2 linked regions of the Homo sapiens genome follow. Changing the gene in region 2 together with the main gene of any one other region gives a genetic interaction. Each region holds a gene or a part of one and is shown on either strand. Other genes may lie near its edges.

Region 1 (12,109 bases), on a different chromosome or scaffold from region 2:
GGCTTCCTCCCCGGAGTCCCTGCTGGGCACCGTGGCGGCCATCTGCGCCCCGCCCCCGCCTCCCGGGTAGCAGCCCATGGGGCCCGCGCCGGACTGGTAGGGGCTGTAGGCCAGGGAGGAGGGGAAGAAACCGAGGCTGCCACCTGTGGATACAGGCAGGGCTGTGGGAAGCGGGCACCAGCCATGACTCTCCCAGATTTTTTTTTTTTTTTTTTGAGACGGAGTTTCGCTCTTATTGCCCAGCCTGGAGTGCAGTGGTGTGATCTCAGCTTACTGCAACCTCTTGTCTCCCAGGGTTCAAGCGATTCTCCTGCCTCAGCCTCCCGAGTAGCTGGGATTACAGGCGCCTGCCACCATGCCCAGCTAATGTTTGTATTTTTAGTAGAGACGAGGTTTCACGCTGTTGGCCAAGCTGGTCTTGAACTCCTGATCTCAGGTAATCTGCCTGCCTTGGCCTCCCAAAGGGCTGGATTACAGGCGTGAGCCACCACGCCCGGCCTCCCCCAGATTTTTTTCCTCCACAGCTTCTCTTACCTTTACCCCTCCCTCCATCAGTACCCCCTCACCTCCTCCAGCTCCTCCGTAGCCCCCGGCTGCACCCCCAGAGCCTCCACCCATGTGGGAGCCACCCCCGAAGGGCTGGGAGAAGGTGGGCAAGGCCTTCCTCCGCTTCCGCTGCACCTCTTCCTTGTCTGGGGGCAGAGGAAAATGAGATTGAGCCCAGTTATTGTGTCATGCCTCAGGGGCCCTTCCCAGAAGAGCCCTCAGGGCCGGCTCCTAGGAAGCACCTCCTGGGACCCTCGCACTTCTGACTTGGCTCATGCATCCCCACATCTAGCTCTTGGGACCTTCTTCTAGCCCAGCCTGGCCCCCCGCCAGCACCCTGAGGTCCTCAGCCCAGCTCCACCTTCCACCAGAGGGTAATAGGTGAACTGTTTGGAATCAGACACGTCCCCTCCTCGCTTGCGTTTCAGTTGCAGAAACACTGTTACAGGCCGCTCAATCTTCATCTTGTGATAGGGGGGTGTCCGGAACACAATGGCATACTGGGGGGTGCAGGGAGACACAGGGTGTCAGTGAGTCCTTAGCCTAATTTAGCCCCCAGCCCGGGCCCGGGCCCTAGCCCTGGGTACCTGTTTATGCACATCTGTGGGAGAGAAGTCCCCAAAGGCCTGCCATCCATTCTCATCATCCTCATAGAACCGAACCTCAATGTCATCTACAAGGAAAACGGAAGCTTGGCCACAGCTCCCGGTGGAATCTCTGGGGCCATTTACCCTAGAGCTTCCCTGGCCCCAGTCTTATACTCGATGTCCTTGGTGCCCAAAGTGGGCTCCAGTCTCACCTTTCTGCACCTTGTCACAAAGCAGATAAACTTCATCTCCACCCCGCACAGAGCCTGCTGTCTTGTCCATTCGAGAAATCTTCAGGTTTGATGCCCCCGGAGATTCTATGGAGTGGGATATGGATTAGTTGAGATGATGCAATAGCCAAGGCCACATTTAAGAAGCTGGGGGCTTTGTATTCCTTATCTCAGCAACCCCTGGAGCTGCAGGAAACACCCAATATACACATTTACTAAAGACAGAAGCTTCGGGGGGGAAATGACTTGCTCAGGATCACTCAGCTCATATGTGGCAGGGCCAGGTTCTGAAACCTGGGTCTGTTTGACTGCACAGCTTGAGGTCACCCCTCATGCCACCTCTGCCACCAGGCCTGGCACCCCAGGCAATCAGGATACTCACTGCTGTCATGGATGGGCTGGGAGATGACTGGCTTCAGGGGCAGGGAGAAGGAGCCATCACTGGCTCTAAGGAAGGCAGAGAAGCGCAGCCGCACTATACTCAGATCCATCACCTTCTTCAGTTCTTTGGCCTCTTGCTCCAGCTCCCGCTGCTCGGCCTCTGGGCAGTAGGTACATGTGTGACCCCTGGGCTTCTCCCTCCCTGCTCCTTCCATGAGCACCTCCCATGACCCACCCACCCCCTGCACCCATACCCGACCCACCCCCTGCACCCATACCCGTAAGGCCCTGGGGCCTAGAGCGGAGCCGCTGCCTCTGAAGTTTTTGTATCATAGTCCCCATCATGTTCTTCTTAGTCACATGCAGGACACCCAGGTTGTTAAATCTGAGAAGAGAGAATCGGAGGCCTTTGGCCATGCAGTTCTTTCTTCCTGAGGCACCTTTCCCATTGCCAGGGCTCAGCTCAGCCTTACTTCCTCAAGGAAGCCATTGGAGTTTCTACTTAGGCCCTTGGGTTTGGGGCCAACCTACATCTTTCCCCTTGGTCAGATGCTAAGCTCATGGAGGTGGGCTGGGGCCTGGGACTGGCAGACGGGCATACCAGTGGGGGCCAGGCGTAGAGGGCACCTACTGGGCAGTCATGTCCTTGGGCCCCACAGAAACGGCGCAGATCCCCAGCTCCGAGCATTGCTTGCCCACCAGACTGTGGGCATGAGCACGAGGTGGGTCACTGTGTGTTACCAGGTCCACCTCGATCTTGGCTGGTCCCTCGTAGTTACAGATCTAGGAGAGGCAGGGACTGTCAGTCAGGGCCTTGGGCATGCTGTCCACTTAGCCCACCCTCCAGCACCATCCTGGCTCACCTTGACAGTGGGATAGGTCTTTCGGCCCTTCTCACTGGAGGCACCGGGCAGTCCTCCATGGGAGGGGCCTTCACAGCCATATCGAAATCGGAAGCCTCTCTGAAGGTCCAAGGGCATAGTAGCATTGTGATCAGGGAAGACCACCCAGGCCAGCAGTGACCGCAGTGCCTGGTAGTAGCCCTGAACCAAACTACAGCACTCTGATCAGCAGCAGTGACCATCCAATCCCCTGTGGCCTCCTTCGGCAATGGCTCCTCCATGGCCAGCCAGCTACCACTACCCCATTTGTCCCCAAAGCTGAAGCCATTCCACACCCTCCCTTTTGCTCACTCACCTGCTTAGGCTGTTCCACGATCACCAGGTAGGGGCCATCAGCTGGGGACAGAGAGACCTTGCTGAGCCACGATCTCCCAGCCCCTCCCCCAGAGAGAGGGCACATGCTCTCCCTCCCCCGCTTTAGGACTAGGGGAGGTTAGTGAACTTGCTGACCTGTTTCTGGGGCTGGCTCCTTGGGTTCCACAATGGAGGAGTTCAATTTGAAATCATCATATTCAATAATACCATCCAGACCCTGGTTTGGAGACAGACTGGGGGTGGCATCCGACTCTCAGCACCCCCCACAGCCCCACCTCCCATCTCCAAGTCTTCAGTGGTCACTCCCCCCTCCTCCTCAGACCCAAGAGAAAGCTCCTTTTGGAGGCAGAGTTGCAGACAGATGGACAGACTGGCAGGCTGAGAGCATCTGCGAGCATACAGGTGTAAGGCAGCAGAGGGGGCTCGGGCAGACAGGTGGACAGACACGAGGGGCAGCCGGCCGGGTCAGGGGCAGGCGGCATGACTCACTGGGTTGTAGCAACTCTCCATGTCTCTGGGCTAGGCCCGGCTCTGTCTAGTGGCTCCGGCCAGGTTCTGCTTCCCAGAATTTTAGACGCCCGCCTAAAGTTGGGAGGAGTGGCGTGGGGGAGGGGGTCAGATCTAAATGGGGGTGGGCGGGAGATGGGGGCCCAGATTTGGGGGAGGGTCCGACCTCCTCCAGCCGCCTGTCCGGGTGTGGCGGGTGAGATCCGGTGGAGAGCGAGATCCGGAGTTGGGCTTGGCCGGGGAAGGGGCAGGAAAGTTAGAGCAGCTTAGGAAAGTCCCGAAAATACCAAGGGGAGGCGGGGCCGGAGGGGGCGGGCCTGGAAATGACGCCACTGGCCCCGCCCTCGCGACGGGAGGGGCGGGAGGCCCTCGACAGTCTACGGGCTCCCGCTGCTTTTCAGCGGGCAGAGGTCTAGGAGAATCCGGGAAGCCCCGGTGGGGGTTAAGCCCCCTCCTCCCTCCAGGGCAGGGAACAGGAGGGTCTTTCACGGCCGGGAGGAGGCTGGCAGTCTGGGGCCAAGTCCGCCTCCCGCTCCCCTCCCCCGGTCTGGAGCAACCTTGGGATTTTCTGCCAGGAGGGAGGCCACGGCTGATAAACCCCGGGGGCTTTTGGGGGGACATTCCTGCTGTCGGACGGCCTCCCCTTCGAACAGCCTGTAGGCGGGGGCTCTTTCCTGTGGGAGGCCCCGGGGTTCTGCCCCGAGAACGCGATTCTGGGGCTGCGGGAAAAGTGTCTCCTCCTCGGAGTGGGCTCTTTTCTCTCTCTCCCAAACCTCACAACAGCAGCTGGTCCCACACCGCACCGGTTCTGGGCGCGCAGGCGACAGGGAGATCTCTGCACGCTCCCCCCCCCCCCCCCCCACCTAATACAAGAGTGTGTCTCCATCACAGCTCCACAAGTGTGTTTCGGCTGTAGTGCTTGGTTGCATGTTGTGTGTCCATGGCGTCAACATGAGTGTGCAAGCGAGCATGTGTGTAGATAGGTGAATCCCGAGCTTCTCAGTGTGGGTGTGTGTCAGCGCCTGTCTTGATGTACGGACACGGGTGAGCGTATCTTGAGTTTGTGCGTGAAGGGTGTGGGTGCAGGCACCAGTGCACCGGTGGGCACGTCTCCGTGTGCATGTGTGTGCGAGTGCGACTGCACGGACGCTGCCGTGTGTGCGCCAGCACAGGTACAGGTGTACGTACGGGTCCGCGTATCTTTGTACAACGGTGTCGACGTGGATCCGAGTGTCGTCGCCTGCGCGCCCTTTCCGGCTGTGTGCAGCTGCTGCTCTCCAGCCCCAGGCGCTGTCCGCTAAAGGCCCTCCTCCCTCTTTTCTCTTGTCCCGGCCACCCAGGGGTCTGAATCCAGCCACTCACCGTGGCGGCGGCTCTGGTTGCGGCTTCTCTCCGCGCCCGACCCACCTGGGACCGGTCGCGACACCTCGCCTGCCAGCAGGGCTCAGGGCCGGGAAAGCCCCTTCTCGGCCCCCCGGAGGGGGGAATTCCCATGACGTTTCCGTGCGTCACGCCTCGCGCCCTTTTTCATTGGCTGAAAGTTTAACTCTGGACTGGCGCAGCCAACCCGGAGCGACTCGGGCGCGCCCCTGAGAGGGGACAGGCTCACTCAGGGCGGGGAGCGGGGTGACAGGACACCAGGCGCGAGTTCGGCCGGCCAGGGGACCGCCGAGAAGGTACCCGCTGACCCAGCGCCACCCCGGGCCGGGAGCTTCCGCTGCCTCTCGGCTTTGGCTGCGCCTAACGCTTGGCTTTCTCTGAAGCGGGGGATCCCCAGGGGGAAGCCGACGGCCCCAGCCCTCGGGGCCCCCACCCTGAGCGGCGCGCTGCCGGGAAGTTAGCGGAAGAGGAAGGAAGTTATTCTTGCGGTCGGTCCCGGGCGCCCTCTGGCGGCCTCCCTGGGCCCGCGAGTAGACTCCATTCGGCCCCGGCCCCTCTCTCGCTCCGTCTCATCAGCCTCAAGGCTCCGGGAGAGACAGTCCGGACCTCGAACTTTTTTAGAAGTGACAGGTTCCCAGCGGGCCAGGGCTCAGGAGCTCTGCTCAGGAGAAGGGAAATGAAGTGTTTATCCACCAAGGAGATCTGGAATATTAGAACTGAAAAAGGCATCCAGAGTTTAAACAGCTCAAATTTCCACCGATGTGGGAAATCGCCTCTTTTTTTTAGTCTCAGGCTGGAATGCAGTGAGGGGATTTTGGCTCACTGCAACCTCTGCCTCCCGGGTTCAAACCATTCTCCTGCTGCAGCCTACCGAGTAGCTGGGATTACAGGCGGCCACCACCACGCCCGCCTAATTTATGTATTTTTAGTAGAGTTGGGGGTTTCACCACGTTGGTCAGGCTGGTCCCGAACTCCTGACCTCAGGTGATCCGCTGGCCTCCGCCTTCTAAAATGTTGGAATTACAGTCGTGAGCCACTGCGCACGGCCTATTTATTTATTTATTTATTTATTTATGTTTTTGAGACAGTGTCTTGCTCTGTCACCCAGGCTGGAGTACAGTGGCGTGATCATGGCTCACTGCAACCTCGAACTCCGGGGTGCGCCGATTCTCTGACTCTCCTGAGTAGCTGGGGCTACAGGTGCACACCACCATACCTGGCAAATTTTAAAATTTTTAGTGGAGATGGATCTCACTGCGTTGCCTAGGCTGGTCTTAAACTCCTGGGCTTAAGTGATCCTCCTACTTTGGCCTTCCAAAATGCTTGGATTTTGGATTACAGACGTGAGCCACTGTATGCTGCCGAATTGCCTCTTATAGACCTTCCAATTTCCACCTGAACACTTCTAGAGGCAGCGAGGTCAGGACAGAAATTCACCAAGCACGGAGTACATGACTGGACCTCTCTCTGGTCAGTAGCGTTTCTCCTTAGCAGGTGCCATGAGTAATCTCCCTGCCTGGAGTCCTCCTCCCTTAGGCTTATGGTAGAACATAAACTATCTCGGGTCTTTCCTGCAGCTTGCCCCAGACGTTTTTAAGAACAGAATCACAGGCCTGCACTGGCACTAAGTAAAGAGAGACTATTATGGCTCTCGATTTGGGCTGTTTCCTATTACTTCCCCACCCCTCTTCATCTTGCCTGCAAATATAGTGTCCTAGTTGCTAGGTTCGGGTACTTTAGAAGTTCTTATTCTCCCTCCCAACAACCCTAGGAGGTGAATATTACTTTTACTGATGAAGAAATTAAGGCTCAGAGAGGTGGAGTAACAACCAAACACACAGCTAGAAAGGGACAGAGCCAGGATTCAAACCCAATCTGTTGACTCCAGGATGAAGCTTTCTCCCCTAAGTTTATATAAAACAAAGCAGCCCTTTCCACCTTACTGTGGGCCTCTCAAACAAATATCATAAGATTCTGCCAAACAATTTGCTGAAATCCAGATATGTTGTCTACTACGTTTCTCTGGTAAGTCAGATTCCTAACCTTAAATTAAAATGGACTAAGGCCGGGCATGGTGACTCACACCTGTAATTTCAGCACTTCAGGAAGCCAAGGCTGGTGGATCACTTGAGCCCAGGAGTTCGAGACCAGCCTTGGCAACATGGTGAAACCCCGTCTCAAAAAATTGAAGGGGTGGGTTGCCCCTCCACACCTGTGGGTGTTTCTCGTGAGGTGGAATGAGAGACTTGGAAAAGAAAAAGACACAGAGACAAAGTATAGAGAAAGGACTCGAGGAACCAGCATTCAGCATATGGAGGATCCCGCCAGCCTCTGAGTTCCCTTAGTATTTATTGATCATTCATGGGTGTTTCTCTGAGAGGGGGATGTGTCATGGTCACAAGACAATAGTGGGGAGAGGGTCAGCAGACAAACAAAGGTCTTTGCATCATAGACAAGGTAAAGGATTAAGTGCTGTGCTTTTAGATATGTATACACATAAACATCTCAATGCTTTACAAAGCAGTATTGCTGCCTGCATGTCCCACCTCCAGCCCTAAGGCGGTTTTTCCCTATCTCAGTAGATGGAACGTACAATCGGGTTTTATACCGAGACATTCCATTGCCCAGGGACGGGCAGGAGACAGATGCCTTCCTCTTGTCTCAACTGCAAGAGGCATTCCTTCCTCTTATACTAATCCTCCTCAGCACAGACCCTTTACGGGTGTCGGGCTGGGGGACGGTCAGGTCTTTCCCTTCCCACGAGGCCATATTTCAGACTATCACATGGGGAGAAACCTTGGACAATACCTGGCTTTCCTAGACAGAGGTCCCTGCGGCCTTCCGCAGTGTTTGTGTCCCTGGGTACTTGAGATTAGGGAGTGGTGATGACTCTTAACGAGCATGCTGCCTTCAAGCATCTGTTTAACAAAGCACACCTTGCACAACCCTTAATCCATTTAACCCTGAGTTTGACACAGCACATGTTTCAGAGAGCACGGGGTTGGGGGTAAGGTCATAGATTAACAGAATCTCAAGGCAGAAGAATTTTTCTTAGTACAGAACAAAATGGAGTCTCCTATGTCTACTTCTTTCTATACAGACACAGTAACAATCTGATCTCTCTTGCTTTTCCCCACAAAAATACAAAAATTAGCCTGTCTCATAACTAGGTCTCTAAATAAATAAATTAAAAATTAAAAATTAAATGTATAATGGAGTAAATTCATCTTGGTATACTCTAGCTTAGTAAACCCGTGCTGGTTACCACTGATCACATCTATCCTTTCAAAGTGCTCATAAATTGCCACCAAAATCAGCACGGATTCTTTGAGTCTCCACAACATCTCTAAAAGCACCCCTAAGGGTTGAGCTATTTTAGTTACAACAGTCTAAGGCGTAATTTATCTAAAGATGAACAAAACAAGACCTTTATTAGAGAACATTTCAAACATACAAAGATTTTCACTTTGGGAGGCTGAGGCAGGCAGATCACTTGACCTCAGGAGTTTGAGAACAGCCTGGGCAACATAGGGAGACCTCATGTCTACTTAAGTTAGCCACATGTGATGGTGAGTGCCTGTAGTCCCAGCTACTCGGAAGGCTAAGGTGGGAGGATTGCTTGAGCCCAGGAAGTTGAGGCTGCTGTGAGCCATGTTCGTGCCACTGCATTCCATCCAGCCTAGGTGACAGACAGACGCTGTCTCAAAAAAAGAAGAGTGGAGAGAATAGTATAATGAGCCCTCGTGTGCCCCTCTGTCAGATTCAACAATTCCTAATGCATGTTAGCCTGGAGATTTAAACTAACTCAAAATAGCTTGTCACTTGCTAGAGCCTCATCTATCTGGGCTTAAGAAACCTCTTTGTTAGGCTGGGCACAGTGACTCATACCTGTAATCCCAGCACTTTGGGAGGCTAAGGCGGGTGGATCACTTGAGGTCAGGAGTTCGAGACCAGCCTGGCCAACATGGTGAAACCCTGTCCCTACTAAAAGTACAAAAATTAGCAGGGTGTGGTGGTGGGCGCCTGTAGTCCCAGCTACTAGGGAGGCTGAGGCAGGAGAATCGTTTGAATCTGGGAGGTGGAGGTTGCAGTGAGCCGAGATCATGCCACTGCACTTCAGCCTGGAAAACAAAGTGAGACTCCATCTCAAAACAAAGAAGAAAGAAAGAAAGAAAGAAAGTTCTTCATTGCATGTTACACTAATTTTCATCCTAATCGTCATCTGTTTCCGCACCCAGCTCTAGCACAATGCCTAGCCCAGAGCAGATGCACCACTAATTTATTCCATTCATTTACCGATAAATAGTGAGAGCCCACTCCATTAAACAACACCGCTGCTTGCAGGCAAAACTCAAACAGATATATATCAGTTGGTAATAAGTGCTACAAAGAAAAATTAAGTAGGTAAAGGATTGAGAGTGACAAGGATTTTCTAGGTATCAGTCAAAGCAGGACTCTCTGATAAGGTAACAATTAAACAGTGACTTGAAAAAGTGAGGGAGTGAGTCATGGGGAATATCTGGAGGAAGAGTGTTCCAGGTGGAGGGAACAGTAGGGCCAAGCTCTGATACAAGTGTTTGGCATATTTGAGGAACAGCAAGAAAGTTAGTAGGTGGAATAAAGTAATAACTTTGGGTTTTGTTCTGATCAAGATGGAAAGCCGTTAGAGAGTTCTGAGCAGTGGAGTGAAAATTGTATAATGTATCCTTTTTTTTTTTTTTTTTTTTGAGAGAGGCTCTCATTCTGTTACTCAGGGTGGTGTGCAGTGGCGTGATCATAGCTCACTGCGGCCTCAAACTCTTGGGCTCAAGCAATCCTCCCACCTTAGCCTCCTGAGTAGCTAGGACTACAGGCACATGCCACCATGTGCAGCTAATTTTTGCATTTTTTTGTAGAGATGGGTTTCACCATGTTGCTCAGGCTGGTATCCAACTCCTGCGCTCAAGTGACCTGCCCACATTGACCTCTCAAGGTGTTGGGATTATGGGTGTGAGCCACCATGCCCAGCCTAAATTTTTATTTTTTAGTTTTTTTTTTTTTTTTTTAGAGACAAGGTCTTGCTGTGTTGTCCAGGCTGGGGTATAATGTGTCTTAAAAGGATCCATTTGGGCTGCATGCCTGTAATCCCAGCACTTTGAAAGGCCGAGGCAGGAGGATTGCTTGAGCCCATGAGTTCGAGACCAGCCTGGGTAACATGGTTAAACCCCTTCTCTACAAAAGATGCAAAGATTAGCTGGGTGTGGTGGCATGCACCTATATTCCCAGCTACTCAGGAGTCTGAGGTCAGAGAACTGCATGAGCCCAGGAGGTGAAGATTGCAGTGAGCCTAGATTGTGCCACTGTACTCCGGCCTGGGCAACAGAGCGAGACCGTCTCAAACAAACAGAAAAGGATCCGTTTGGCTGCTGTGTAAAGACTATCGAATGCAAGGACCTAGGAGGAAGGAGGGAGACCAGGAGTCCAACAGACAGCGGCTGAGGCTTGGGTGCTAGTGGATGATGAAGGTGGTGGGAAGTAATCGCAATTCTAGATAGATTTAAAGATAGAAGTAACAAGACTTGCTGAAGATTAGATGCAGGATGTGAGAAAAGAGGGGGTTTTGGCATAAAAAGAATGGAATTGTCCTTTAGTGATGTGGGGCACACTGAGAGAGGAGCAGATTTGTAGGGGGTATCAAGAATTTTTCCTTTTACTTATTTTTATTTCTCTTTAATTATTATTATTATTTTTTTTTGAGACAGAGTCTCACTGTGTTGCCCAGGCTGGAGTGCGGCGGCGCCATCTCGGCTCACTGCAATCTCCGCTTTCCGGTTTCAAGTGATTCTCCTGCCTCAGCCTCCCGAGTAGCTGGGATTACAGGCACCCGCCACCACGCCCGGCTAATTTTTGTATTTTTAGTAGAGACAGGGTTTCACCATGTTGGTCAGGCTGGTCTTGAACTCCTGACCTCGTGATCTGCCCGCCTTGGCCTCCCACAGTGCTGGGATTACAGGCGTGAGCCGCCGTGCCCAGCCTTTTTTTTTTTTTTTTTTTGAGACAGTCTCACTCTGTTGCCCAGGCTGGAGTGCAGTGGCACAATCTTAGCTCACAGCAACCTCTGCCTCCCGGGTTCAAGCGATTCTCCTGCCTCACCCTCCTGAGTAGCTGGGATTACAGGCCCCTCTCAATGGGAGCCCTGGGGCTGAGTGACTCTGCTCATTCACAGCCACTTGTCTTCCAACCAGTGAGCCCTCAACAAAGGTAAATACCCATGGCTCCAATAACCACAGCTTTTGTTGTTCCTAGTATTTTTTTCTATTTGGTGGCGGGGCAGGGAGGAATGCCCATTGTAGCTCATTCTATATTTTGTTCTTTCTCATATCATTATGTGTGTAGAAAATTCACATATTTTTCTTGGTTGTGGGCATCTGTTTCCAGTTTTTATAAACTCCTACTAAACTCTGAGCTCACTAGGTAATAACCTGTTTCCTCAGGTACTTAGCCTTTTATTTCACATGAGAAGCTACAGAAAATGTGTTTAGCTTTGGAGGGTTTCTATACCACCACCACCACTACTTTTATTTATTTATTTATTTATTTATTTATTTATTTATTTATTTATTTATTTGTCTGAGACAGAGTCTCGCGCTCTTGCTCAGACTGGAGTGCGGTGGTGCCATCTCGGCTTACTGCAACCTGTGCCTCCCAGGTTTAAGCGATTCTCCTGCCTCAGCCTCCCGAGTAGCTGAGATTACAGGTGCCCACCACCACTCCTGGCTAAATTTTTTTTTTTTTTGAGAGGGAGTCTCGCTCTGTTGTCCAGGCTAGAGTGCAGTGGCACAATCTCAGCTCACTGCAACCTCCACCTCCTGGGTTCAAGCGATTCTCCTGCCTCAGCCTCCTGAGTAGCTGGGACTACAGGCGTGTGCCACCGTGCCCGGCTAATTTTTTTTTTTTTTGTATTTTTAGTAGAGATAGGTTTCACCATGTTAGCCCGGATGGTCTCGATCTCCTGACCTCGTGATCCCCCTGCCTCGGCCTCCCAAAGTGTTGGGATCACAGGTGTGAGCCACCACACCCGGCTTATTTTTGTATTATTAGTGGAGATAGGGTTTTGCCATATTAGCCAGGCTGGTGTCAAACTCCTGACCTCAGGTGATCCGCCCACCTCAGCCTCCCAAAGTGTTGGGATTACGTGTGTGAGCCACTGCACCTGGCCTCACCATCACTACTTCTGAATGGAAAAAGTGTCATACCAAAGAACACAAGGTTTAGAGTGACA
Region 2 (11,420 bases):
ATTTCTCTGATTCCAATTGTTGAAAACCCCTTTAATGTCCATCAGTTTGGGCTGCTGGCTGGGCGCAGTGGCTCACGCCTGTGATCCCAGCACTTTGGGAGGCAGGGGCTGGCGGATCACCTGAGGTCAGGAGATCGAGACCAGCCTGGCCGGCATGGTGAAACCCTGTCTCTACTGAAAATACAAAAGAATTAGCCAGGTGTGGTGGCGTACACCTGTAGTTCCGGCTGCTTGGGAGGCTGAGGCAGGAGAATCGCTTGAACCCAGGAGGTGGAGGTTGCAATGAGTTGAGATCACGCCACTGCACTCCAGCTTGGGTGACACAGTGAGACTCTCTCAAAAAGAAAAAAGAGAAAAAGATGGGTTGCTTTCTTTGTTATATAAAATATTACATTTCTATAGATGCCAGGGACTACATCAGGCCTATCTGGTCTGTTCTACTGATCCTTCTCTTGACTCTTGAACTAGTACCATATTCTCTTAATAATGGCATTTCTATAATGTGTTATCCCTTCCTTACACTGATTCCTCAAACATTTCTTAGCAGCTGGTCATAGTGGCTTAGGCCTGAAATCGCAGCACTTTTGGGGCCAAGGTGGAAGGATGACTTGAGCCCAGGAGTTTGAGACCAGCCTGGGCAAAATGTTGAGACTCTGTCTCTATAAAATTAAAAATTTTTTTCTTAGCTATTTTATCTGTTTGTTCCTTCATATGAAATTTAGAAACCTAGCCAGGCGTGGTGGCTCACGCCTGTAATCCCAGCACTTCTGGGAGGCTGAGGCGGGTGGATCACCTGAGATCAGGAGTTCGAGACCAGCCTGGCCAACATGGTGAAACCCCAGCTCTACTAAAAATACAAAAAAAATTAGCCAGGCATGGTGGCTCACACCTGTAGTCCCAGCTACTTGGGAGGCTGAGGCACAAGAATCACTTGAACCAGGGAGGCAGAGATTGCAGTGAGCCAAGATTGTGCCACTGCACTCCAGCCTGGGCAACAGAGTGAGACTCAGTCTCAAAAAAAAAAAAAAAGAAAAGAAAAAGAAAGAAAAGAAATTTAGAATACTTTGGTTAAGTTTCAAAAATAATTTAAATTGCCTTAAACCTGTTTATTAACTCAAGGAGAATTAATAATCTTATAATATTTAGTCTTATCTCTTAGTAGGTTTTTGTCATTTTCTAGGTATTTTGTACCTTCTTTTTTTTAATTTAAAAAAAGTTTTTTAGAGATGGAGTTCTTGCTGAGTTGCCCAGGCTGGCCTGGAACTCCTGGGTGTAGGCAATCCTCTCACCACAGCCTCCCTAGTAGCTGGGACTATAGGCACACAATCATGGCTTTGTAGAATTTTTTAAATAGCTGCTGTGAATGGGAAGATGGATTTTTTTCCCATATTTCTTCTCATTTGCTTTGCTAAGATAGAATTATGCTATTTTTCTTTCTTAATTATTATGTAATCTAGCCACTTTGGTGAGCAATTTCTTATTAAGTTAGTGGTGTTTTTGCTTATTGTTTTGAGTATTCCAGAAGCAAATAGATGTTATTTCGCCTTTCTGAAGATACGGTTAAGTCTGGGTTCTTGTCACGGAGCCCTTCTGGGCAGTTTCCCACTTCACCTCTGCCTCCTCCAAAGTGCCAAGCACGCAGCAGGTACTCAGTGAGTGTCCTCTGAATGAAGGTAAAGGAACCGCTTGGCTAAGGTCATTCCTGGCCCTGGGTGGCAGCCCTTTGATTCAGGATCTGCACCTCAGTCTTACCAGAGGGCTGGGGGCTTTTAGACCCAGGTGTCTGATTCAGGCTAGCCACCTCACAGACACTTGCCGCCCATTTCCATCTAGAGGGAAAGCAGGGGCCAGTCACCCTAGGGAGACCCCATTCAGGACAAAAGAAGCTTAGAAAAAGGACCCAGCGGAGGCTATGGCCATCCAGAACGTCTTGCTCTCTATCCAGCCAGGCTGCCTGAGGCGTGCCCTTCCAGGCTTGGAACCCTGTCTCCAAGGAAGGGGATCCAACATCAGACACAGCCCCTCTCCCCAAGTGTCCAAGATCCAAAGGGGGAAAATAACAACTGTTTCTTATTCTCTTCCCTTTATTCCTATACCCTATAGAATTGCCCACATTTATTAGTATTCTGTTTTTTAATTTCAAAAAAAGGAATACATTCATACATTCACAAGGCTCAAACATAATCTAAAAAGGTATGCAGTGAATGTCTTACTCTACCCTCATTCCACCCATCCCATAGCCACTTTTATTAATTTGCATGTCCTTTTAATATTTATTTATTCAAATACAATCAACTATGAAGATATTCTTATTTTTCCCCATTCTTACACAAAAGGTAGCATCTGATACACACATTTCTGCACCTTGATTTCTAACTTAAAATATATATCATAATAATACAAATAGTTAGCATTTATTGAACACTCATTGTATGCCAGTCATTTTTCAAACTTTTATCCATATATTAACTCATTTAATCCTTCCAGTACTCCTATTATTAACCTCATTTCTCCATGGAGAATTTTCCTTATCAGTATATAAAGAGCTTCCTCAATGGCTTACAGCTACATAGTATTCCGTTGTATGGGTGGATCATAATTTATGTAACTAATTGCCTTGTGAGGGACACGTGGGTGGCTTCTAATTCTTTGCTATTGTGGACTGTGCTGCAGTGAATATATTGTATGGATATCATCTTGTTATGTGTAGAGATAGAGCTGCAGAGCAGATCCAAAGAAAGAGGATTGCTGGGTTAAATGCATTTGTAATTCTGATGGGTATTGCCAAATTGCCTTCTGTAGAGTTATTAGTTCTTTTCATAATTGCTTAGTATTTCTAATTAAACGTAGCATTGATGAGCACTATGTATCAGTCTGGCTGGCTAGTAGGCTCTCTGTTGGTGGTTCCAGAACAAGTTGATCTCAGTGTAGTCCCAGATGAGACCCTTTCTTCTGGCCTCAGGTGGGCTGACTTATTCCTTTTTTTTTTTTTTTTTTTTGAGATGGAGTCTTGCTCTGTTGGCCAGGCTGGAGTACAGTGGTGCAATTTTGGCTTACTGTAACCTCCACCTCCTGGGTTCAAGCAGTTCTCCCACCTCAGCCTCCCAAGTAGCTGGGATTACAGGCGCACACCACCAAGACTTATTCTTATCACTGCCGGTGAGAGTAAATTACAGCAATATTTCTGGGGAACTAACAGTATTTTCCCTGGTAATATTTGAAGAAGCAGCCTTGTAATGGTTAAGAACATGGACTCTAAGCTGGACTGCCTGGGTTTTTATATTTTCTTTCGCTGCTGTAACAAACTACCACAAATTTAGGGGCTTAAAACAATGTAAATGTATTCTGTTATGGTTCTGGAGGTAAGAAGTCTGAAACAGGTCTCACTGAGGTATATAAAGGTGTCAGCAGGCTTTGCTCCTTTGGGAGGCTCTCAGGGAGAACGTTTTCTTGCCTTTCCCAGCTTCTAGAGGCTGCCCACATTCCTTGGTGCATGGCCCCTTTCTGTCTTCAAAGCCGGCAACATCACAACATTCCCACCTCTGCATTCATCACATCACATCTCCTCTCATTCTCCTGCCTCCCTGCCCTTTCCTTTGAAAGGATTCACGTGATTACGTTGAACCCACCCAGATAATCTAGAATAATCTCTTTATCTCAAAGTCCTTAATTGAATAACACCTGCAAAGACCCTTTTGCCATAGTAAGGTGACATATTCACAGGTCTCAGGAATTTGCACGTGGACATCTTTAGAGGCCACTATTCTGCTACTACAGTTTGCATCTAGACTCTACCACTTACTAATCGTGTGATCTTGAACAAATTATTTTGCCTCTTGCACCAGTTTTCTCATCCTTAAAATGGGGATAATAATGGTATCTATTCCACTGGATTGTCAGGAGGATTGAATGAGTAAATATTTGCCAATGCTTATAATAGTATCTGAGACACAATAAATGCTATGGAAGTATCTGCTAGCTAAAATATATTAACCAGGCCAGGCACGGTGGCTCACACCTGTAATCCCAGCACTTTGGGAGGCTGGGGCGGGTGGATCACCTGAGGTCGGGAGTTCAAGACCAGCCTGACCAACATGGAGAAACCTCGTCTCTACTAAAAATACAAAATTAGCCGGGGTGGTGGCGCATGCTTGTAATCCCAGCTACTCGGGAGGCTGAGGCAGGAGAATTGCTTGAACCCGGGAGGCAGAGGTTGCGGTAAGCTGAGATGGTGCCATTGCACTCCAGCCTGGGCAACAAGAGCGAAACTCCATCTCAAAAAAAAAATAACCAAATAAAAATATTAAAATACAAACACTTTGATCTAGCAGGCCTATATTTATAATCTATTTCATAGGAACAAAAGCTTCCATGATTAGGCTATATAACTTGGATATTACTAAAGTGTTGTCCATATTGGCACCAAAAGAAAAAAAAAAGGAAAGGAAAACGAAAGAAAGAAAATGCACAAACAGGAAATTACCTGAATGCCAGCAAAACGACAGTGATTGAATCAATTGTGGCCCATCTGGGATATACCAGAGCTATTAAAGAGAATACATCTGATCTGTGCCTATGCACCTAGAGGAATGCTCTGAGTGAAAGTTCGTTGAGAGGAGGAAGTTCAAAGTAATTATATGACTTGATTTATTTCTTTCTTTTTTTTGAGACGGAGTTTTGCTCTTGTTGCCCAGGCTGGAGTGCAATGGCACCATCTGGGCTCACCGCAGCCTCCGCCTCCCGGGTTCAAGCAATTCTCCTGCCTCAGCCTCCTGAGTAGCTGGGATTACAGGCATGCGGCAACACACCCGGCTAATTTTGTATTTTTAGTAGAGACGGGGTTTCTCCATGTTGGTCAGGCAGGTCTTGAACTCCCGACCTCAGGTGATCCTCCCGCCCCGGCCTCCCAAAGTGCTGGGATTACAGGCGTGAGCCACCGCGCCCGGCCGATTTCTTTCTTTCTTTTTTTTTGAACAAACATCAGCCCCCAAAATTATTGTAGATATCTAGGTCAATCATTTAACATGTTCTGTTTCTTCCTCTGGGAAATATGTATAACGACAATTCTCACTCAAGGGGCTCTTGCAAAGGTTAAGTGGCATGGCTGACATGTGTCAAGTCTGTACCATCCTGCAAGCAGCAGCCCAGTCTGGCATTTGTGTAAGGCGGTTTCAGTGGAGAGATGTGTGGAAGGGTGCACCCCACGATGCTCACCTGGTGCTTCCTCGGTGGGGAAGGGAAATTCAGAAGTGGTGGAAAGAGATGATTGTCGTTTCGTATATCTTTGTATTGTTTCCCGGATGTTGAAATTGTTACTGTAGTAACTTTTTATACTCATGTGTTATTGGTAGTTTGGATACTATCACCATAACCACAAACACTGAATTAGGAAAAGCAGAAACCTAGAAACATGCCATGATTCAAAGTCTGGTATTTTTGGAAGAGGAATTTAATAACGAACGTTTTAAGAGGAAAAAGTCAGGAGAGTCCTAACCCAGGCCAACCTTGTGTGTCCACAGCATCTACTGCCGAGGATGTTCCAAGCCGCTGTGCTGCTCGTGCGCGCTCCTTGACAGCAGCCACAGTGAGCTCAAGTGCGACATCAGCGCAGAGATCCAGCAGCGACAGGAGGAGCTGGACGCCATGACGCAGGCGCTGCAGGAGCAGGATAGTGCCTTTGGCGCGGTTCACGCGCAGATGCACGCGGCCGTCGGCCAGCTGGGCCGCGCGCGTGCCGAGACCGAGGAGCTGATCCGCGAGCGCGTGCGCCAGGTGGTAGCTCACGTGCGGGCTCAGGAGCGCGAGCTGCTGGAGGCTGTGGACGCGCGGTACCAGCGCGACTACGAGGAGATGGCCAGTCGGCTGGGCCGCCTGGATGCTGTGCTGCAGCGCATCCGCACGGGCAGCGCGCTGGTGCAGAGGATGAAGTGCTACGCCTCGGACCAGGAGGTGCTGGACATGCACGGTTTCCTGCGCCAGGCGCTCTGCCGCCTGCGCCAGGAGGAGCCCCAGAGCCTGCAAGCTGCCGTGCGCACCGATGGCTTCGACGAGTTCAAGGTGCGCCTGCAGGACCTCAGCTCTTGCATCACCCAGGGGAAAGGTAAGCACGCACGCCACCTTCCTGGGCGGCCTGTGCCTCTGCTGCACCCTAGGGAAGGCGAGTCAGAAGAGATCATCTCCATTTGACAGAAAAGAAAACTGGGTGTTTATTCAGTCTTTGGGGGTTGGTAAGGTCTTAGGTTCCAGGGCACAGGATAAGGGGGAGATGAGGCCCTGACAAAGGGCTGCAGCCACCCAGAGGGGACACATTTTACTAATTTACAAGACTCTGTGGATTGACCTAGCGATGACTCATGGGGAACACGTGAAAGTTGAAAAACTGCAAAGCTGAGAATCAGACCCAGTATCATTTTGGCGCCAGAGGGACCAAGCACTTCAGGAGGTTCTCTTAAGCCACCGGTGTCTCGGAACAGAGAAGTCAATTGGGACCTGGGGTTACGGTAGAAGGGGGCTAAGAAAACCTCCTGGGGATGGTTGGATGCTTACCCAAAACCATACAGTGGCTCAGTGGAGGAGATCCCTTGTCTGCAGGATGACCTGCTGTCTGCCAACCTTTGCGCGCCCTGCCTAGTGTTGGACGCTTGAGAGGTAAGGAGACACAGACTAGTTTCTGATCTCAAGGAGCCAGAGCCACTTCACGTAGCTGGAGAATGAGACAGTGCTCAGCTCTGCAATCCAAATCCGGGAGATGTAGCAGCTGTGTATTAGCTGGAACAGGGGGGCTTTCAAAATAAGGGGTAGGGGGAGTGTGCCAGAGAGTCTCCAGGAGTCTTTGACTAAATCTCCAAGCTGGAATGTGAGCTCTGAGCAGCTAGTATAGGATGCCCTTACTGGGAAAGGGGAGGGAGGCTATGGAATCTGAAGGCACCTGGGTAGGGTGCCAGTGACAAAGAGCTTATTTACTTCTCCTGGAGCTGGACATGGGTCATGAAGGATAATCTTAGAGGGCCTGGACCTGTGCCTTCTCCACCTAGGTAGTGAATGTCACCCATATTAAGGAAATGACCCCACAGAGTTTACACAGCTTGCCTTGGGTGTTATAACTGGGCAATAGCAGAGAGAAGGGTTATTTTATTCTGAAGCATAAGAGATTTAGATTTAATAAAAACCAGGCTGCAGATAAGGAAGATCATGGAGCTCTCACTATATGTAGAGAGTCAGTGAGCCGGTAGTGATGGCTTTATGATTGCGCACACTTAGCCTTGCTGTTGGCTCAGAGATGGAGAGAGGTACACTTGGGGTTTGGAGCCAAAAGCAAGCACTCTAATGCCACCTCCTTTTCCCTTCTGGCTGGGTTCCTGCCCACTGCATTCGAGAGAGCTCTCCTTCCAGCTGCCCCTCCAGGGAGTTGTCCAGTGCTTTGGGATGCCCTGGAAAATAGGTATCCTGGAAAAGCAACAGGGACCTCCTCTCTATCACTGTCCCAGGTCAGGATGTCCCTTACCAGCATGTCCTTGACCTGCCTGTGACCTTCTTTGTGTTCTACAGATGCAGCTGTATCCAAGAAAGCCAGCCCAGAGGCTGCCAGCACTCCCAGGGACCCTATTGACGTTGACCTGGTGAGATGGGTTTGAGGTCTGAAGGGGTGGTGGTGGGGCCCAGCAGGTCAGGCAGGTTGTGAGTCCTGCTGTCCCTGTGTGTGCAGGGAGAGCGTCTGAGTGAGGGACAGCAAGTGGCTGGACTGGAAATTTCAGTGAGAGGAAGTAAAGGAAGACATTAAAGAAGGGTTGGCTGGCTAGCTGGCTCTGACTCTAGGCTCCTAAATGCCAAAGTTGCTCTTGATGGGCCATGAGCCAGGTTCAGTGGGGGTTAGATGTGGGGTAGACAGTCGGCCACAGATCAGGGCTGCTGCAGAGGGAATTCCAGCATTAGATGGCATATTAGTGCCTTCCAGCCATGAGAAACTATGGTTGTCAGATGTATGGTTAGATATAGGGTCAGCAGTCCTGAGGGATGTGCAGATGTCCTCTCCCCTCCTACACCCTACCCCCAATGTGGGAGCCTTCTCTTGGAGTCAGAATAGGTGGGCCTTCCCCTGCTCTTTCCCCACAGATGGTTCTTGGAAAGGAACGGGGAATGGTGCCAGGAGTCAGATTTCGATCCCAGTTGCCCGGGTTCTGCTGGTGTGATTCCAGGGCCACCATACATGTAACAAAGCAGACTGTCTCAGGGTTCAAGGTATCCATGTCCCATCTAATGCTGGCATTCCTTCTGCAGCACCCCTGACCTGTGGCTGTCCAGCTTTCATGTACACATCTCCAGGGACAGGAAGCTTGCTCATTCTAGAGGCAGCTGCTCCCAACTCTGGACTGCTCTGACTTAGAAAGTGCTTTTCCGAGTGGAAATGCAGTGGTGTCCCTTTGACTTGCCCCCTTTGGCATTCACAAGTATGGCTCCTTTCCACCAGAATAAGCATCCTCGGTTTCTTCCTGGACTTGGCATCTGGTCTCTTCCCTAGCCTAGTCACTCAGGTTTGCATGCGCCTAGCCTATCAAGGATCTGGCCCAGGACTGGCCAGTCCTTCATGGACAGCAGGTCTTCTGGTGGTGGGTAGGGGCCTAGCTTTTGCCATGGCATGACCCATAGGAGAGAGAGAGTGCTGTAGGTTGAGGCAATCAGGAGAGGCTTCCTGGAAGAGACAGGACTTAAGAGTCTCAGAGTTTTAGAGCCAGGCAAGAGCATGGAGTCTAACCCCCTTTTTTTCACAGAGGACGAAGCTAAGACCCAGAAAGGATGTGACTTACCCAAGGCTACACACAGCAAATTAGGGGCAAGATTAAAAGCTGACTCTGTTTTTTGTTTGTTTGTTTGTTTGTTTTTTAGATGAAGGCTCGCTCTGTTGTTCAGGCTGGAGTGTAGTGGCGTGATCTCGGCTCACTGCACCCTCCGCTTCCGGGGTTCAAGCCATTCTCCTGCCTCAGCCTCCCGAGTAGCTGGGACTACAGGCGCGCACCACTACGCCTGGCTAATTTTTGTATTTTTTAGTAGAGACGGGGTTTCATCATATTGGCCAGGCTGGTCTTGAACTCCTGACCTCATGATCTGCCCGCCTCGGCCTCCCAAAGTGCTGGGATTACAGGCGTGAGCCACTGTGCCCAGCCTAAAAGCTGACTCTTAACTGCCTTGGGTACTGCATTCCTATATACACAACCTCAAGTAAAAAGAGGAATTTTTTAATATATGTGTGCATAATACAATCACATAGTCAGAAATAAAAACATAGAAAGTGATCAATAGTGTCTTACTCCCACTTTAGCCCCCAGTTCTTATGCCCATATAACTATCTTTTAAAAATTTCTTTTGAGACAGTCTTGCTCTGTCACCCAGGCTGGAGTGCAGTGACACAATCTCGGCTCACTGCAACTTCTGCCCCCTGGGTTCAAGCGATTCTCATGCCTCAGCCTCCTGAGTAGCTGGGATTATAGGCACGCACTACCACACCCAGCTAATTTTTTGCATTTTTAGGAGAGATGGGGTTTTGCTATGTTAGCCAGGATACTCTCAAACTCCTGGCCTCAAGTGATCTACCCACCTCAGCCTCCCAAAAGTGCTGGGATTACAGGCATAAGCCACCGTGCCCCACCTCTTTTTTAAATTCTTATATATCCTTCCAGAATGTATGTAATTACAAGCAAATATTATTATAGATATTTGCCTTTTGCATTCTGTGTTTCACAAAGGTAGGATAATACCAGATACACATGGTATCATACCAGAATTCTTATCCTATCAATAGGTAGAGAGCTTCCCGATACCTTTTTGCAGCTGCATAATGGACCATTAAATGGATATGGCAGGCTTTATTTAGCCAGTTCCTTGTTGCTGCATATTTAGGTTGTTTTGCTATTACAAACAATGCTACAATGCATGATGTTTGCAAATAAATAATATAAAATAATAAGGCCAGGTGTGGTGGCTCACACCTGCAAACCCAGGACCTTGGGACACTGACGTGGGCAGATTGCTTGAGCCCAGGAATTTGAGACCAGCCTCGGCAACATGGTGAGACCCTGTTTCTACAAAAAGTGTAAAAATCAGCCAGGTGTGGTGGCACATGCCTATAATCCCAGGTACTCAGCAGGCTAAGGTGGGAGGATCACCTGAGCCCAGGGAGTTTGAGGTTGCAGTGAGCTGTGATCACACCACTGCATTGTAGCGTGAGTGACAGAGTGAGACCCTGTCTCAAAAAGCAAATAAACAAATAAAATCAAAATAATAATAGGGAAATGCCCTTGGTCCACAGACTCAGCTGTCTTCCAGATGCTAGTCATTGGTGAATGAACAACAAGAGAGCCTGCACTGTCTTGTGTGAAGGTCTAGGTATTTTGGGTCTTTGTCTTGATAAAATCAGAATAGACGTGGCCTCTCACTATCAGCTAGGAAGCAGTTTGAACTTGGAGTATCAGAGGGTTGCTCTTTTTGCCAAGCCTCTGGCTTCAATCCTTGCCTGGGGATGGCAGTGCTGCTGAGGGAAGGAAGTGGGGAACACTGTGAGTGCAAGGACAGGTGAGGCAGGCACAGACGGCTGTCCCAAGGGAAAGTGCTCCATCAGCTGTGCCAGGAGAGAAGCAGCTCTTGGGTCCGTGTTTCTGCCTTAGAAGGCAGGAGTTGGGCATCTAGCTCCAGCACTCATCCCTCTTGAAACTGCTGGTTTGTTTACTTTCATTGCAACTATATGCCTGGAAGAGATGAAGAGAAAGCTCAACAGGCTTCACTAGGATTGTTTGGGTGGGGTGGCAGCAGCTCAGATATTTTCCCTCCTCTGTTTTTCATAGGCTTTTTGTAATCGTGTTATAATACTTTAATGGAAAAAAATAAATTTATTATTTTAAAGCTATAAAAATTATAAATCAGTCATTATGATGTGTTTTTCTCTACTGAGCCCTCTGGTGTGTTCCCTGTTTTATTAACGTGGATGGAGGGTGTGTCAGGGAGGTTGGGACAGAGGCAGAGAAGAGGCCAGCCCGGCCTTCGGGGAGTTCGTGGCCTGTCTGGAAAGAGGGTCTTTTACATACCAGCAGTTTGCAGAGCCAGACACAGAACGATAGAGCAGGACCTTTTAAACTCCTTTTTCAAAAAAAAAAAAAAAATGTTTAATTTTGGTAAAATACACATAATATAAAATACATCATCTTAACCATTTCAAAATGTTCAGTTCAGTGTACACTAAGTGTACAGTTCTTTAGCATTGAGTACATTCACACTGCTGTGCAGCCATTACCACCACCCGTTCCAGAAGGATTTTCATCTTCCCAAGCTGGAACTCTGTTCCTGTTAAACAGTCACTCCCCATGCTGCCTCCCTCAGCCCTGGTGACCCTTGTCTACTTTCTGTCTCTATGATTTTCAATACTCTAGGTA

What was found.
Region 1: changes in PML (region 2) and NFKB2 together harm fitness more than expected from each alone (negative genetic interaction), as found in Homo sapiens cells (one study listed by BioGRID).

What each region holds. Positions count from the first base shown.
Region 1 is NC_000010.11:102,387,322-102,399,430, reverse strand, and holds the start of NFKB2 (nuclear factor NF-kappa-B p100 subunit), read right to left. Parts: upstream 3,727-12,109; 5' UTR 3,635-3,726; exon of another isoform or gene 3,544-3,634; 5' UTR 3,472-3,543; coding exon 3,451-3,471; intron 3,179-3,450; coding exon 3,097-3,178; intron 2,983-3,096; coding exon 2,942-2,982; intron 2,707-2,941; coding exon 2,608-2,706; intron 2,528-2,607; coding exon 2,376-2,527; intron 2,130-2,375; coding exon 2,023-2,129; intron 1,905-2,022; coding exon 1,746-1,904; intron 1,451-1,745; coding exon 1,346-1,450; intron 1,220-1,345; coding exon 1,134-1,219; intron 1,047-1,133; coding exon 908-1,046; intron 693-907; coding exon 567-692; intron 144-566; coding exon 1-143. UniProt on the Homo sapiens protein: NF-kappa-B is a pleiotropic transcription factor present in almost all cell types and is the endpoint of a series of signal transduction events that are initiated by a vast array of stimuli related to many biological processes such as inflammation, immunity, differentiation, cell growth, tumorigenesis and apoptosis.
Region 2 is NC_000015.10:74,017,309-74,028,728, forward strand, and holds part of PML (protein PML), read left to right. Parts: intron 1-5,519; coding exon 5,520-6,100; intron 6,101-7,548; coding exon 7,549-7,619; intron 7,620-11,420.